Regions from separate parts of the Homo sapiens genome. Here region 2 is linked to region 1. Evidence: fine-mapped expression QTL. Tissue or cell type: whole blood. Region 1 holds a variant in brackets; the other region holds the start of a gene. All regions are shown on one strand. Distances are between the middles of the regions. Region 1 overlaps FOXJ2 (forkhead box J2). Region 2 holds the start of NECAP1 (NECAP endocytosis associated 1).

Region 1 (8,338 bases):
TTAGGAAGTTAATGATGGGTCTTTTAGGCTTCGCTCCTTCATGTGAGCTAATCTGAACAAAGTTACTACTTAGAGCTCTGTCTTATAGAATTCCTGGATCAATTGAGATTGTTTTACATATTCTCCTGACTATGAGCCTGGCTGTACTTAAAGCGTAGCTAGCTTTTCCAGTCCTAAACTCCCAGGGAGGGAGAGTCCAAAACTTGGAAATGCAACTGCTAATCTGTATAGATGCAAGAATCTTGCATGTAGTCAGCCTGGTATCAGTTGACTGCTGTCTTACACTTCACTCTATCTTATTATCCACTTTCCCCTCCTCTTTACAGCCTTTCCTTCTGACTGGTGCTCTAATATTGACTCTTTAAAGGAAAGCTTCAAGATGGTGAATCGGCTCAATTGGTCCAGCATTGAGCAGTCACAATTCTCAGGTTAGTGATCAAAGGACGAAGGAAGAGAGGGATACACTGTAAGGGAAAACCCAGTAGAAACTGGAACCGGAAGGGGGTGGTTAAATGAAGTTGCAGAAATGAGGATTTCATTGTTTTTCTTTCTTTTTACACAAGATGGATCATATTTACATTATTTTCAAATTAACTCAAATTAATCTTGTCTTAACTGAAAATGTGGCAGTGAATAATCCTAGTCCATTCTGTCTTTGGGAGGGAGAAGGCCCTCAGGAATTTAGAGACCGTGGACCACGATTTTGTAGTTTTGTCACCACTCACTGACAGTGTGACCTTGGCTGAGTCACTCAGTCACATTGAAAGTTTATCTTACTCATCAGTAAGATGGCAATTATAAGAATTTGGTAAGGGATCAAATAGAATGAGAGTTTGAAAATGCAGAGCTCTGAAAGATATAAATTGTTATTGTTAGTGCCCGTTATCAGTGGGGGTGATTGATGGTGTGTTTGGAACAGTGAGATAGGGCGGGGTCTGATAGGGGCTTCCTACCTCTGCAAGGTTTGCATTGCTTGCTTCCCTCTTTGTAGAACTGATGGAGAGTCTACGACAGGCAGAGCAGAAGAACTGGACCCTCGACCAGCATCACATTGCCAATCTGTGTGACTCCCTCAACCACTTCCTTACTCAGACTGGTCACGTGCCCCCTCAAGGGGGTACCCACCGCCCACCAGCCCCTGCCCGTATTGCTGACTCCTGTGCCCTCACCAGTGGCAAACAGGAGTCAGCCATGAGCCAAGGTACTGCACCAAGCCAGTTGCCATGGAGGTGGAGACTATGTTGAAAAGGAAGCATAGGAGAAAGGCAAAAGAGAACTGAGAGAAAGGATTTTATGGGGCAGTGACCCAAATTGAGCAGTGGAACTAGTTTATCAGTTGACTGAATATCTGTTGAATCAGTGAAGTCCTAAACTGAAAAATGCAAAAGAAATAGACTGTATGATTCCTTTTTAGACCTCAGTTTGGGAGATCAGAATTGTTTAAGAAAAGGGAGGAGATTTGTTAGAGAAAGGCTGTATTTTAAATTTGCGTCTCAGTAATCCCTACCGCCTGGGTGATACCGGATGAAATGGTGGTTCTATGCTTATGTGATGTTCAAACTAGTGAAATGAGAGAGATGTCATGATTATGTTCCTGTTTCTTGCTTTTTGTTTTTGAGATGGGGTCTCGCTCTGTCGCCCAGGCTCTGGAGTGCAGTGGTGTGATCACGGCTCACTGCAACCTTGACCCCTGGAGCTCAGGTGATCCTCCCACTTTAGCCTCCTGAGTAGCTGGGACTACAGGTGTGTACCACCATGCCCAGCTAATTTTTTTTTTGTATTTTGTGTATAGCTGGGGTTTCACCGTGTCGCCCAGGCTATCTTCAAACTCTTGGACTCAAGGGATCTACCCACCTCGGCTGCCCAAAGTGTTGGGATTACAGGCATGAGCCACCATACCTGGCCCTGTGTTTCTATATTTTTCTTCCTTATATCTTTCCTATTTCACAATTGTACTATCCATTTCTTTTTACCCTCAGTGGTGAGGACTGACAGCTTCTGCAGAAAGCCTTCATGCCTGCAGGAGCTACAGAACAGGGCAGGGAAGAGAGAAGGAGGATGGGAGCAAGGGTATATTTTTTTCTTCCCTGCTTTGTTGAGTACAGTGACCCGCCCCCCCCAACTCAAGTAACTCTTGTCTTGCTTTGGCAGTGAACTCTTATGGGCACCCACAAGCTCCCCACCTCTACCCTGGCCCATCACCAATGTACCCAATCCCCACCCAGGACTCAGCAGGATACAATCGCCCAGGTAAGAGCTAAGAAGCTTGTTTCAAAACCGTTGTACTCTGATGAGTTGCTTTGCTTTCCTTTGACTCTGAGCTGGCATTCTGTGCATTTTTGCCTGCATCTCGCTGGAGGGAATGAGCCTTTATAATTCCCAAGGCTGGAGGATGGGTTACCTGCTAAGAAGGTGTGTGTCGGGGAGACTAACGAAGACAGTGTCCCCTCCCCTCCCTTCCCCTCCCTTCCTTTCCCTTCCCCTTCCCTTCCCTTCCCCTTCCCTTCCCCTTCCCTTCCCCTTCCCTTCCCCTTCCCTTCCCTTTCCTTCCCCTTCCCTTCCCCTTCCCCTTCCCTTCCCCTTCCTTTCCTCTTCCCTTCCCCTCCCTTCCCTTCCCCTTCCCTTCCCTTTCCTTCCCCTTCCCTTTCCCTTCCCTTCCCTTTCCTTCCCCTTCCCCTTCCCTTGCCCTTCCTTTCCCCTTCCCTTCCATTCCCTTTCCCTTCCCTTCCCCTTCCCCTTCCCTTCCCTTCCCTTTCCCTTCCCCTTTTCTTTTCTTTTCAACAGAGTCTCGCTCTGTTGCCCAGGCTGGAGTACAGTGGTGCGATCTCAGCTCACTACAACCTCCACCTCCTGGGTTGAAATGATTCTCCTGCTTGAGCCTCTCAACTAGCTGGGACTACAGACCCACACCACCATGCCTGGCTAATTTTTGTATTTTTAGTAGAGACGGGGTTTTGCCATGTTGGCTAGGCTTGTCTTGAACTCCTGACCACAAGTGATCCACCTGCCTCTGCCTCCCAAAGTGCTGGGATTACAGGCGTGATCCACTGGCCCCGGCTAGATGTACTTTAAAATTAGCAACTGCAATAGTAAAAGGAAGTGAAAGCATACATATAAGCAAAAGATAGCTATGTGCAACATTTTTGTGTGGCTTTGGAATCTAGATGGAAGATGTGCTCAGGCAAATAAAATGAATTTGTTATCCACACATACTTGCTGTGTGCCCATGTCTGCTTTCCTGTCACCTGATCTCTAGAATCAGGGGTCTGGGACTGAAGTATCTCTGATAGTGGGGGTGGGGCAGGGAGACACTAAATTGCCACAGACAGAACAAAATGAACAGGTCCTTCACATTTAGACACATAGAAAAATCACTGTTATTCTGCCTAACCACACGTGTTTTCAATTTTGGGGGTGACATCTGACTCTCTCTATTCTTTGTCCATATAATATAAATACAGATTTCTATACTGCTATTTCATGTGATATTATCTTCTGTTTGTTTGTTTGAGTCAGAGTCTTTTTCTGTTGCCCAGGCTGGAGTGCAGTAGGCAATGGTGTGATCCTGGCTCACTGCAACCTCCGCCTCCCAGGTTCAAGTGATTCTCGAGCCTCAGCCTCCCGAGCAGCTGGGATCACAGGCGCCCGCCACTGTGCCTGGCTAATTTTTATTTTTTAGTAGAGACAGGGTTTCACCATGTTGGCCAGTCTGGTCTAGAACTCCTGACCTCAAGTGATCCACCCATCTCGGCCTCTCAAAGTGCTGGGATTATAGGCATGAGCCACCACGCCCAGCCATATGATATTATCTTCTGTATGTTATTTTATCATTATCATATGTTTTCAGAAGTACAATTTTTTTTTTTTTTTGAGACGGAGTCTCGCTCTATCGCCCAGGCTGGAGTGCAATGGCACGGTCTTAGCTCACTGCAAGACCTCCCGGGTTCATGCCATTCTCCTGCTTCAGCCTCCCGAGTAGCTGGGACTACAGGCACATGTGACCACACCCAGCTAATTTTTTGAGTTTTTAGTAGAGATGGGGTTTCTCCATGTTGGCCAGGCTGGTCTCGAATTCCTGACCTCGTGATCCGCCTGCCTTGGCCTCCCAAAGTGCTGGGATAACAAGTGTGAGCAACTGTGCCTGGCGTCAGAAGTATAATTGTTAATGGCAGCATAATATTTAATTGCTGTGGAATGTAATTTACTCTAGTTTATTTCCTGAGACCTCACTGAAATGGTGACCTGCAACCAAAATTAACTCCAGCTGATAAGGGCGATAGCCTCACAAGGCCTTCTTCGTGGTGTTATCTGGGGCTGAGCACTGTCCTTGTAAATTGAGGGAACAGCTTCCCATCCACTCTCCTTTTACTCTCTTTCTTTCTTTCTAACAGCACACCATATGGTCCCTCGGCCATCAGTGCCACCTCCTGGTGCCAATGAGGAGATCCCTGATGACTTCGACTGGGACTTGATCACTTAGTGCATCACAGAGTGTGGACATCAGCCCAGGGCCGCGTGGTGAAATCTGGCAGTGGGGAAAGAGCAACCCCAGCCCGTCCCTTCCCCCCGTCTGTATATAGACATATATCCTCTTTTTGTTCTTTCTCTGTCAGAGAAGCCACTGCAAGATGCTGCCGAAGATAACCCTCTCTTTCCTGCCTCATTCTTCTCTCTTCCTTCCTGTTTTTTCCTAGTTCTTTTATTATTATTCTTATATTATTATTATTATTATTGGTTATATACTGTCCATAGTCTCCTGTCCCTACATCATGGATCATGTCCACCTTTTGCTAATTTAAAATCATCAGGCTGGAAGATGAAGCCATGATAGCTACAGAGAAAGGTTTTAGACTCCAGTTTACCTTTCTCTTGGAGAAACTCAATGCTAATCCCACCTTTTGGCCCTAAATTGTTTTTTGTTCCCATCAGTTTCAGGCCAGGACTGGAGAGGCCACATTACCAAGTAGAAAGGGTCTGAAACATTACTTGGCAGCCAAGAATTTGGAGGTTTTAAAATGGTGCTAATTCTGTCCTCTGAGGTCTTCCTTGTCCCTTTATACCTTCAATCCTTACTTCTGCCAGTCTGTATTTCCTATCAAGGGTGAAAGTGATGATGGTGGTGCAGGAGGGTGACAATAAAATCCTAGTGGAATTGGAGACCATTGGAAGGGATGGAATATAAGTCAGTGTGAAACTGAGT[A/G]TACACTGCCATGTTACATCAGTGTCCATTGGCTTGTTTTGAGCCTGTTCTCTAAGAAGATAGGATTGGTTTTAGCCCAAACTCTGCTTCTATGGTAGGGCATGAGGACAACTATTCAGCATGGTTTTAGCTTCTTGGAGATGATTCCAACTTAACTATTTTGGCTTTTTAAACATAATTTTCTCTGAAAATTAATTGTGGCTCTTATTTGCATTTACGAATGATCTTCCCATCCCTTTTTCCCATTCAGCAAATATTAGTTTGTCCTCCTTTAATTGTTTGCCCAAATCTTCCACCCATCTTTTTTCTTCCCTCATTTTCTGGGATTCTCAAGAAAGAAAAAGTAACCCATTATCACTCTGAGTTTCGTCGTGCCCTGAGACATGATGGGAATCTCATTCCCACCTCTCATAGCAGAGCCAAACCTTTAGTGTTGGTGGTAGGAGGATGGGGAGAGGAAAAAAGAGCTGGCAAAGAAATGGATAGGGAATATTTTAGTTCTTTAAATATATAGGCAGATGCTTCTCTTGGAATCCAGATCATCTGGCTGAAGCTTTTGCAAGTAGGCTTTGAGGGGTGAAGGAGATTGGTGGAGGAGAGTAAATAATCTAGAGGCAAGAGTTCAGTGAGGGCCAAGGGGGACCCCCAGAAAAAGGTATGGAGCTAACTCATCTCTTTTACAAGGGGTGGCCATGACTTACTGTTGCAAAGTACTCAGTGTATATTTAATGTTGATTGTTGAATTTTAGTTACGAGAGGGAAGAACAATTTTACTTCTGTCCTTATTTCACTTGCTGAAAAGCTGTGGGACAAAATGTATGGAATAGACAAGGCCACTTTCTTTGTGATTTCTGCTTTTCATGCATATTATTTTATTTACCCATAATTTCCAAGAGGTTTGGCGTTCCGCTCTCCTGCTTTTTTCTTTCATCCACCCCTTTCCTTTTTTTGGAAGGGGGTTATATATGAGAGTTCATTGAAGAAGTCCAGTGAGGCTGAAGTAAAGGGGCAAGATAGGGCAGTTAACTAAAGAGCACTTTATTTCTTTGAAGCCTTTCTAAGAAAGAAATGGGGGTGCGAGTGGCTTGAATCTCCCATGATGTTGGAGGGCACTTAGTGGGGTTGAAGTATGACATAATATTTCCCATTGGGGAAAGGAGAATTTCTCTTAGAGGGTGGCAAAATGCCTTTGCCCAGTGTCCCTATTTTAGGCATCTTTTCCTTCCTTATTCCTTCCAGTCAGGGTGTGTCCTATACAAAACTTCCCATCAGTTCTCCTCAATATTCCCCATTTGTAAATGATCACTTCTCTTTTCTAAACCCTTTTCCTGTTCAGATCCATACAGGATTTGCAAGGGTAGGATCATACATGCAAATGCCCCTTGTTCATCTGTGTCTTCTGCAAACTAGTCTCATGAAGAATTCTGGCGTGCAGCCAGGGTAGCTGAAGTTTGGGTCTGGGACTGGAGATTGGCCATTAGGCCTCCTGAGATTCCAGCTCCCTTCCACCAAGCCCAGTCTTGCTACGTGGCACAGGGCAAACCTGACTCCCTTTGGGCCTCAGTTTCCCCTCCCCTTCATGAAATGAAAAGAATACTACTTTTTCTTGTTGGTCTAGCATTGCTGGACACAAAGTGTAGTCATTATTGTTGTATTGGGTGATGTGTGCAAAACTGCAGAAGCTCACTGCCTATAAGAGGAAATAAGAGAGAAAGTGGAGGAGAGGGACAAAAGGAGTAATTATTTGGTATAGATCCACCCATCCCAACCTTTCTCTCCTCAGTCCCTGCTCCTCATGTTTCTGGTTTGGTGAGTCCTTTGTGCCACCACCCATAATGCTTTGCATTGCTGCATCCTGGGAAGGGGGTATATGGTCTCACAAGTTGTTGTCATTGTTTTTTTGCATGCTTTCTTAATAAAAAAAAAAAAAGAATGTTTACAGTTTTATCTTACTGGTAGTGGTCTCAAGTTTCTTTTGGCCAGGGAAGGAAAAGAGAAACGTGAAAGAATTTAGTCTCAGTTCGTCTTTATTCCTCTTCCACCTTCCACCACTGGGTTGAATTAGTTGACCCTGACACGTTTTGTGACCTTGGTGGGAAAGAAGAATCAAAGGCACGTCCTTAACGTGCCTCTTTTCAAATGCTATCAAGTATGATGACATATTGCGGGAGAGTCAGTCACCCCTTGTAGGTTGGTATATGGAGTAGGCCCACCTTGCTTGCATTTTAGGATAGTTTAAAGATTTAAGATATTATACTTTGGGGCTGGGCGTGGTGGCTCATGCCTATAATCCCAGCAGTTTGGGAGGCCGAGGCAGGCAGATCACCTGAGGTCAGGAGTTCGAGCTCAGCCTGACCAACATGGTAAAACCCCGTCTCTACTAAAAACACAAAATTAGCCGGGCGTGGTGGTGCATGCCTGTTATCCCAGCTACTCTGGAGGCTGAGGCAGGAGAATCGTTTGAACCTGGAAGGCGGAGGTTATAGTAAGCCAAGACTGCACTGTTGCACTCCAGCCTGGGTGACAAGAACGAAACTCTCTCTCAAAAAGAAAAGATATTGGTTGGGCGCGGTGGGTCACACCTGTAATCCCAGCACTTTGGGAGGCCGAGGTGGGCAGATCACAAGGTCAGGAGTTCGAGACCAGCCTGGCCAACATGGTGAAACCTCATCTCTACTATAAATACAAAAATTAGCCGGGTGTGGTGGCAGGCGCCTGTAATCCCAGCTACTTGAGAGGCTGAGGCAGAAGAATTGCTTGAACCCGAGAGGTGGAGGTTGCAGTGAGCTGAGATCGTGCCAAGTGTGCCACTGTGCTCTAGCCTGGGCTACAGAGTGATACTTCATCTCAAAAAAAAAAAGAAAAGATATTATACTTTGGACAGGAGCTGTGTTCCCATCTGGGACTTCCTGGAGAAGATACAGTACAAAATAGTTACAGGTACTCACCAGGTTTTCATCAGAAATGAGGGAGCTCTAATTGTAGGAATTTCTTCAGAATACATTTCCAAAGCAAATGGAAAAGAAAAGGAGTCCAGAAATGCTGATTACTCGTTGTACATTAAATCTTTATAACTGCGTCAAGATTATTCACCTTGATATCCTATACACTAACCCCAGGAGTTTAGGTCTTATTCCC
Region 2 (8,338 bases), 29 kb after region 1:
GATGCCTCACATCCTCATTAAGCAGCGGAGAGTCACAAAGGGTGAGTCATTGCTGTAAATCTCCCTGGGGCCAAGTTTTATTCATGTTCTGAAGCTATTATATAGCTTGGACATGTAGGAGGAAAGGATATTTCCCTTAAATCATCAGGAAACAGAATTCTAACTTAAAGTGTCCCAAGTGAGACGTATCCTTTGCTTTTCAGGCTGTAGAACCTGATGTCTTTTCTTCATGAATAGTATTAATACTAAAGTAGCTTTGATCCTAAGTTCTGTAGTTATAGGACTCTCAATCTTTTTTATTTTTTTCTCTCTCTAGGTTTCTAGATTATTGTCATTTAAACTACAAATATTGATTGAACACCTACCATGTGCCAGGCACTGTTCTAGGTGTTGGGGATACAGCAGTAAATAAATCAAAGTTAGAATTCATTACCCCTCAGATTTGAAGATTGTCAAATTTACAAGCAAAGCCAGTTTAACCTGACACAGCAGCTACAGCACAACACTGCAGAGCAAGGAGTAGGTATGGCTAGATTTAGGTCAATGGCTGACTTTAACTGCTATTTGATTAAAATATGAGATCATGGTAAGACCAACACAGCGTTTTCAACTTTAAAAAATGTTCGTTTTTTGAATTGTTGAAATTGATGGAGGCCTTACCTATCTCACAGTGGAAAGAGTGTTAGTTTGTAAATCATGAGATATGAAGTTCTGATCCTGACTGCATCACCAACTATGTCTTTGGATGAGATCTGAACTGAAAGGTTACTAAGGTCCACTCTAGCTAAAAAAAATCCTGTAAACTATGATTCGAATCTCATTACAATTTTTATTACCACTGCATGTGTAGCAACTTCAGGATTTAGGAAAATTATACTTTAACAAATACCATTGATAGCAGTACCCTGAGCAATGATAAGTCAGAATTTAATCTGTGATAAATACCTTTTTGTGTGTGCGTAAAGAAGAGCTGGGAAATATGTTACTGGTAGGGCTAAGTTAAGAAAACCATAAGTTATTTTCATGTTTAAATGACATCTAAAAGTGACCAAGATTTGAGATGGGTAAGGCCTCCATGAATTTCAACAATGCATTTAAAAAAACAAGCTTTTGTTAAACTTGGTTAAATCATATACTTACAAAGCCACATACAAGAACACTAGCTTGACTTAGCACAGTCTACTCAGCCCAGAACCTGTGAGCTGTGTAGCTACTACCCCCCGGTGGTGGGCAAAGATAAGTTCGAGACAAGACATTTTTAATTTTTTTATTTTAGTTTATTTTTTTTTGATACGGAGTCTCATTCAGTAGCCCAGGCTGGAGTGCAGTGGCATGATCTTGACTCACTGCAACCTCCGTCTCCTGGGTTCAAGCAATTCTCCTGCCTTAGCCTCCCAAGTAGCTGGCATTACAGGCATGCACCACTATGACCAGCTAGTTTTTGTATTTTCAGTAGAGACAGGGTTTCAACATGTTAGCCAGGCTGGTCTTGAACTCCTGACCTCAAGTGATCTGCCTGCCTCAGCCTCCCAAGGTGCTGAGGTTACAGGCGTGAGCCACTGTGCCGGCCCAAGACATTTTTAATTATTTTGATTGGGAAAGAACAAATCATCCCTGTTAAGGCAGGCTGAAATGATCATTCATTTAGCAAATAAACATACAGAGTTCTTACTATAGTCTGAAAACTGTGCTAGATACTGGGAAAACACAAACCTGTTTCTTTCCCTTGGAAAACAGAGATGCCAACAAGCAGTTGAATGCAATGTGCTAAGAACTAAAACAGCTGTACAAATGTTGTGGGAGCATAGAGGAGGCAGTTACCAGTTCTATTTAGAGAAGTTGAGGAAAACTTCTGAGATAAATTGATATTTAGATTAGATCTAAAGGCATCTTACCAAGGAATGAACGGGAAGTGCATTTCAGTCTGGACAAATATGTTCAGCATGAATAAAAATGGCATGTATGGAAAATTATGGCAATGTGATCAGTTAAGCTAGAGAAGACATCGTGGGTGAGAGTGAGGAAGACTGTATTTTTTTCTGTTTCTGTTGAGATGAAGCAAGAGAAGGGAAATTTAAATTTATATAAAGAAAAAACATGGTTAAGTAAGGGTTTTTTTTTTTTTTTTTTTTTAGGTGAAAGGACTTGAATATACTTACATGGTGAGGGAAAGGGGTGAATGGAAAATGAGTTTTAAGATACAGGAAAGAAAGGAGATAACTGATTAACCAGGTCCCTGAGGAGATTGGTCCCTGAGGAGAATCCAGGGCACACACAAGTGGATAGGAGAAAGAATAGATGAAGATGCAGATAGGAGTATGAATAGGGTGTCATTAAGTTGAGAGAGTTCACACAAACTTTATTTTCTTAGGGAAGTAGTAAGATGTTTTACCTGTCAAGAAAGAAAAAGAGAAGACTTAGAGTTGAAGGCCTGAAAGGGCAGCAAAATTTGGAACAACCATTAAAGGGAATGAAAATAAAAACTAGCAATGGCAAATCTGGGTGTTAAGGGCAAAGCTGAGACTCAAACCCATAAACTTTTAGGGACACCAATCTTTATAATTGTGTGATTTGCTTTTGGAGAATGATGGAGGGAGATGGTTGGAATATATAAGACTGGAGTCTTTTGGGTTGGCTGTGATGGAAAGACAAAGAGGAAAGGAAACTTAAGGATGCTGGCAAGAGAACTGTTGAAACAAGGAGATGGGAGGAATAAAGAGAAGGCTAACAATGTGCAGAACATGAAGAAGAACAGGTGAGGTAGAAAAGAGAGGTAAAGATAGTTAGAATTTATGTCAAGAGATTGTATGGCTAGGAAGAGTTAACTATATGGGCTTTGAAATCTCTAAAAGATTTGGGAGAAGAGGAAGAGTATAAACTAGTAAGAAGGTGAACCAGAAGCCAGAATCCTCCAAAAATGATTGCCAGTGATAACACAGAACAGAGAAAAAAAAAGAGGTACAATGTGGTGTAGTCATATGACCTAGGCTTCAGATGAGATCATAGGGTCAGAAATAAGGAACAACAAGTAATAAACCACTTTTCTGTCTTTATTTTTCTTTTAACATGTATTCAGTGACAATAATAGCTATATAAATCTTAAACAACAGAGAAATATATGGAGGAGAAAATAAGTTTCTTTCCCCCACTTAGCCTTATATCCTTTGAAAGCCTTCTCAATGCATTTACATGCATGCATATATAATTTTGGGGTGTTTCGACAAAAGTTGATAATGCTGTATGTTTTTTGCAGTTGGCTTTAAAAAATCTTGGATCTCTTTCAATGGCTAACCCTTTAGTTCAAAACATCTCATAGTAATAGATATACCATTAACCATTTCCCATTGATAGATGGTCATTTTGTTTCCATTTTTTTCACTATTACAAACAATGCTGTAGTATTATTGTACATACTTTTTTGTGCATATAAGGATTTCTCTACAATATTTATTAGTGAAACTGCTAAATTGAAGATTACGTCCAATTAATATTTTGATAAATTCTGTTAATTTCCCTTTTAAAAATGCCGTGCCAATTTACATTCCTGCCAACAGTGTATGAGATTAGACTGTTCCTCACGTCCTCGCCAGGGATAAATGTGGTAATTCTTTTTGAAATTTAAGATATCACTTTCCAAGGTGGAGCAGACAAATTAGAGGCAGGTTTGCTTTTTTTTTTTTTCTCATTAAACTTTTTTAATGGGTCTCAAAATTCTGTGACAAATTTTTGGATGTTTCCATTAAAAAGTACTGATTTAAAAAACTAATAACTTAAAACTGCCACACGCAAAAAAGAAAACCAGTGGTCCACAAAACATTCTCCTTTCCTTCTGAAGAAGAAAACCAGTGGTCCACAAAACATTCTCCTTTCCTTCTGAAGGTTTTACGATGCATTGTTTTCATTAACCAGTCTTTTACTACTGAACTTAAATGGCCAGTTGAAACAAACAGTTCTGAGACCGTTCTTCCACCACTGATTAAGAGTGGGGTGGCAGGTATTAGGGATGATATTCATCTAGCCTTCTGAGCTTTCTGGGCAGACTTGGTGACCTTGCCAGCTCCAGCAGCGGTGAAGACTGCTGCTGTTGTAATGAGGCAGGCTTGAGTTTCTGTCTCAGTTTTGCCACTTGCTATCTGTACTGTCAGGGTGTTGTGGTTAAGTTTACCTTTGGGGCGCAGAAAAAGCATATTTATGGTGAGAGTTCGGTAGCATTTATCATTATAATAGAACTGGGAGCTAATATAGGCCATTAGATAGTTCATTATGCTTCCGATTTTATCAGGAATTGGGTTGATCCCACGTATAGTCTATTTAACAGGATCAAATTTTCCAAAAAGATAATCGGAATACACGCCGAAAGTGTGGCAAAACATTTTAACAGGTGTCGTCCTGAAAAATCGGAGATAAAGAGTGTAAGGCACTAAATCAAGTTGGGTGTTTTCAGCGTTTAGACTCTGGAGAGTTGAAATCCACGGTGTCTATGACCAGATCATACATCATTCTCTGCAGGTACCTCGTCTGGGACTACCGGCTGGAGGTTGCCTCTTTTCTGCCAGGAGACTACAGTTAGGAAGTGACTCCTGTAAGAAAATCCGTCACGATTCAATATGGTCCTCGTCCTCGTAGGACACTCCAGGCACCTGCCTAGAGTAAGATGGCGCTTTTCGTAAGCACCTCTCCAGGACAGAGATTTCCATAACGAGAGTCACGCACTTGCAGGCCATCTTTGCCATTATCCAAGACGGTGAGCCGTGCAGCCTCATCGTTTCCAGGTTTCAATATGGCTCCCCGCGTCACCGAAAAGGTTAATCTCAGAAACTAACTTGAACTCGCGCGGAAGTGACGCAACAGAAGTTGTCGCGCTTTGCATCTCCGCCTCCCGTGCTCCGCCTCCGGTCTTACGTTTCGCCCCCGGCAGCGCCGACAGCGGACCCAAGATGGCGACCGAGTTGGAGTACGAGTCTGTGCTGTGTGTGAAGCCAGACGTCAGCGTCTACCGGATTCCGCCCCGGGCCTCCAACCGCGGTTACAGGTACTAACCCCGAGGCGCTGCCGCACACGCGTACTCTGTCGCAGATGACAGCTTCCTTCTCAGCTAGCACGCTGTCCGTCCCTGCCACTACTACCTCTGTATTGTCACCTTGCTAGCCTCCCTACCTGGGTTGTCATCTCCCTGACCACCTGCTCCATCTCCACTCTGGACTGTCATCACCATATTTCTGCCGTTTTTTTTTTTGTTTTGTTTTTTATTAAATTACCACTCTGCGTTATTCCACTCTGCCTCTCCCGTAATCCCCTGGGGCACCCATCTGCTCCCCATCATGCACTTTCAGTCGTGCTTGCTCCATTGCCAGTCCCCTTTCATTCGCTCTTCCCTGCGTCCTTCAGCTTATCATCCTCATCCTTTCTCTCTCTCTCTCTCTCACACACACACACACACACACACACACACACACACACACACACCTTTCCAGTTCCCCATGCACATTTATGGGTAATCGTGTTGCTTGCCACTCTGGATTATCTGATTTATTTTTTGTACTGTTGTCAATTTCGTCACCAACTGTCATCATCCACCATTCGGTTTTTCCTTCAGCAGTTTTACCAGTGAGCAAAGGTTATGATCATAAGCTTTACAACGGTTGTTCATTCTGTTTCTTCTCATTGTATTTTCTTGATGATTATATAGTATTTTCTGTCTTCCTTCCCTACCTCCCTTCTTAACCTCTCCTACACCTTTTCCCTCCAAAGTTGAGGCAGCATTTTTCTCTGTTGGGCCTAACTACCTACCTTGTAATCCAATGACTGTGAGGTTCTGAGGATGCTATAGGACATTATGTAGTTGAAAGACAGTTCACTGGGCTTCATGTTAAACCATATGAGTGTGAGCCCTTTCCAAGCCTCAATTTTCTCATCTGTAAAATAGAAAAAAAAACCTGTTAGTGATGATACCTGCGCTCTTATAATGTGCTTAACAAGGGTTTTTGGGAGAGTAAAATTAAATCATATAATGGATGTGAAAGAATGTAGGAAATGCAATAAAGCAGTTACAAATACTATTTGTTTGTTCTTTTTTTTTTTTTTTTTTTTTTTTTTGAGATGTAGTCTCACTTTGTTGCCCAGGCCGGAGCGCAATGGCTCAATCTCAGCTCACTGCAACCTCCGCCTCCTGGGTTCAAGCGATTCTCCTGCTTCAGCTTCCTGAATAGTTGGGATTACACGCATGCACCACCACACCTGGCTAATTTTTGTATTTTGAGTAGAGATGGGGTTTCACCAAGTTGGCCAGGCTGGTCTTGAACTCCTGACCTTGTGATCTGCCCACCTTGGCCTCCCATAGTACTGGGATTACAGGCGTGACACCACGCCCAGCCGTCGTTTTTTTTTTTTTTTTTTTTTGTTAGAGAGGCAGGGTCTCGTTCTATCATCCAGGCTGGAGTGCAAGTGGTGCAATCACAGCTCACGGCAGCTGTGTACTCCTGGGCACAAGGGATCCTCCTACCTCAGCCTCCCAAGTTGCTAGGGCTACAGGCATTGCCTCACAATGCCTGGCTAATTTTTAAATTTTTTTGTGTAGACAGGATCTTGATATATTTCCCAGGCTGGTCTCGAACTCCTGGCCTTAAGTGATTCTCCTGCCACAGCCTCCCAAAGTGTTGAAATTACAGGTGTGGGCCACTGCACCTGGCCAAGATACTGTTCTTATTCTTCTCTCTGACCCACATCATCATTGTGATTTTTCCTCCTGGCATTTATCATTACCTTGGCTGAAAAGTTACCCTCTCCTTATGTCTGTTATTTTGCCCCTTACTGGCGTTTTATTCATCATGAATCAATATTTTTATGCTTGCTGACCTGTGCGCTGGGCCCTGTGGGTTGCACCTTTGGCAAAGAGGTAGCAGTTCTGTTTTTAATAAGCTTTTAGTTGGACCCCAAACTGACCCTAAGTAGAAATCAACATGCTTTTAGATGGTAGTTACAGGTACTATATGAGTCACTTAAACATCACCTTCTTTGGGAGGCCCTATGTGACCCTTCCATTCTGGTTTAGATATGCACCCTGTGTGCTTCCATAGCACCTTTTTCTTTTTCTTTTTTACTTTAAGTTCTGGGATACATGTGCAGAATGTGCAGGTTTGTTACATAGGTATGCATGTGCCATGGTGGTTTGCTGCACCTATCAACCTGTCATCCTCGCCCCTCCCCCGAGAGGCCCCAGTGTGTGTTGTTCCCCTCCCTGTGCCCATGCGTTCTCACTGTTCAACTCCCACTTGTGAGTGAGAACATGTGGTGTTTGGTTTTCTGTTCCTGCATAGCACTTTATTCTTATCTCTATTCCAGGGCTCTTCATTTTGTATTGTAATGGATTACAGTGGATTGTACAATGGATTGTTTAGTCTCCTTTTTTCTCCAGGCTAGACTGTGAACAACTTGAGATCTTTTTAACTTTATATTCCCAGGGTCTAGCACAGTATCTGGTACACTTTGGGCACCCTGTAAATGTTGACTGAAAGAAGAAATCAGTAGATTACACAGAGAAACCTAATCACATAAAGTGGCATTGATTGAACTGTTAAATAAGGTCAAATAGCTCATTACTTCCAACTTTAGGAGTTAAGACTCCTAAAGGATATGATACATATTGAAGTGGGATTATATTCTTTTTCTTGAAGTTTTTTTTTTTTTGAGATGGAGTCTGGCTGTGTTGCCCAGGCTGGAGTGCGCTGGCGCAATCTCAGCTCGCCACAACCTCCGCCTCCCCGGTTCAAGTGATTTTCCTGCCTCAGCCTCCCAAGTAGCTGGGACTACAGGCACGTGCCACTATGCCCAGCTAATTTTTGTATATTTAGTAGAGACGGGGTTTCACTGTGTTGGCCAGGCTGGTCTCAAACTCTTGACCTCGTGATCCGCCTGCCTTGGCCTCCCAAAGTGCTGGGATTACAGGCGTGAGCCACCGCACCCGGCCTACTTCAAGCTTTTTAAAACACCTCCCCTCTCACCCATCTTCTCTATCTTCACTTCTTAGTTTTCCACAACCTTTATACTTACATCAGTTAACTGCACTGAGCCATTAAAGCAGTTTCTTAATTTTCCTCTTTTTCCTGTTATCCTTCTGTGTTTTCCATGTCTACTGGCATTTTTTATCCTCCAAGAGGCACCTTATCATCAATCACTTTTTTAGTACAGCACATGAAGAGAGCGGAATTAAGTTTGAATAACGATATTTATTTGCTGGGTTACCTTTGGCAAATCACCACTTTTGAATGTTAGTTTCTTCATTTGTAAAAATGACTATAACAATACTTACCTTGTAGGATCCTCTCACTTAATCTTCTTT

What was found. PIP is the estimated chance that this variant, and not a neighbour inherited with it, causes the effect.
Region 2: NECAP1 starts here. The variant in region 1 is fine-mapped to the expression of NECAP1 in whole blood (INTERVAL, PIP 0.98).

Annotation. Positions count from the first base shown.
Region 1 is chr12:8,048,371-8,056,708 of GRCh38, forward strand. It overlaps FOXJ2 (forkhead box J2), which reads left to right. Exons shown (of 11, transcript NM_018416.3): 8 at 327-428; 9 at 992-1,201; 10 at 2,152-2,250; 11 at 4,392-7,147. The coding sequence ends at 4,480. Among named protein-coding and RNA genes, the nearest start is that of C3AR1, 14 kb to the right of the region's middle. The variant A/G (reference allele first, on the strand shown) is at 5,201.
Region 2 is chr12:8,077,352-8,085,689 of GRCh38, forward strand. It overlaps NECAP1 (NECAP endocytosis associated 1), which reads left to right and starts at 4,923. Exons shown (of 8, transcript NM_015509.4): 1 at 4,923-5,032. The coding sequence starts at 4,938. RefSeq lists enhancers at 1-279, 4,185-5,384, 4,816-5,035, 5,106-5,165.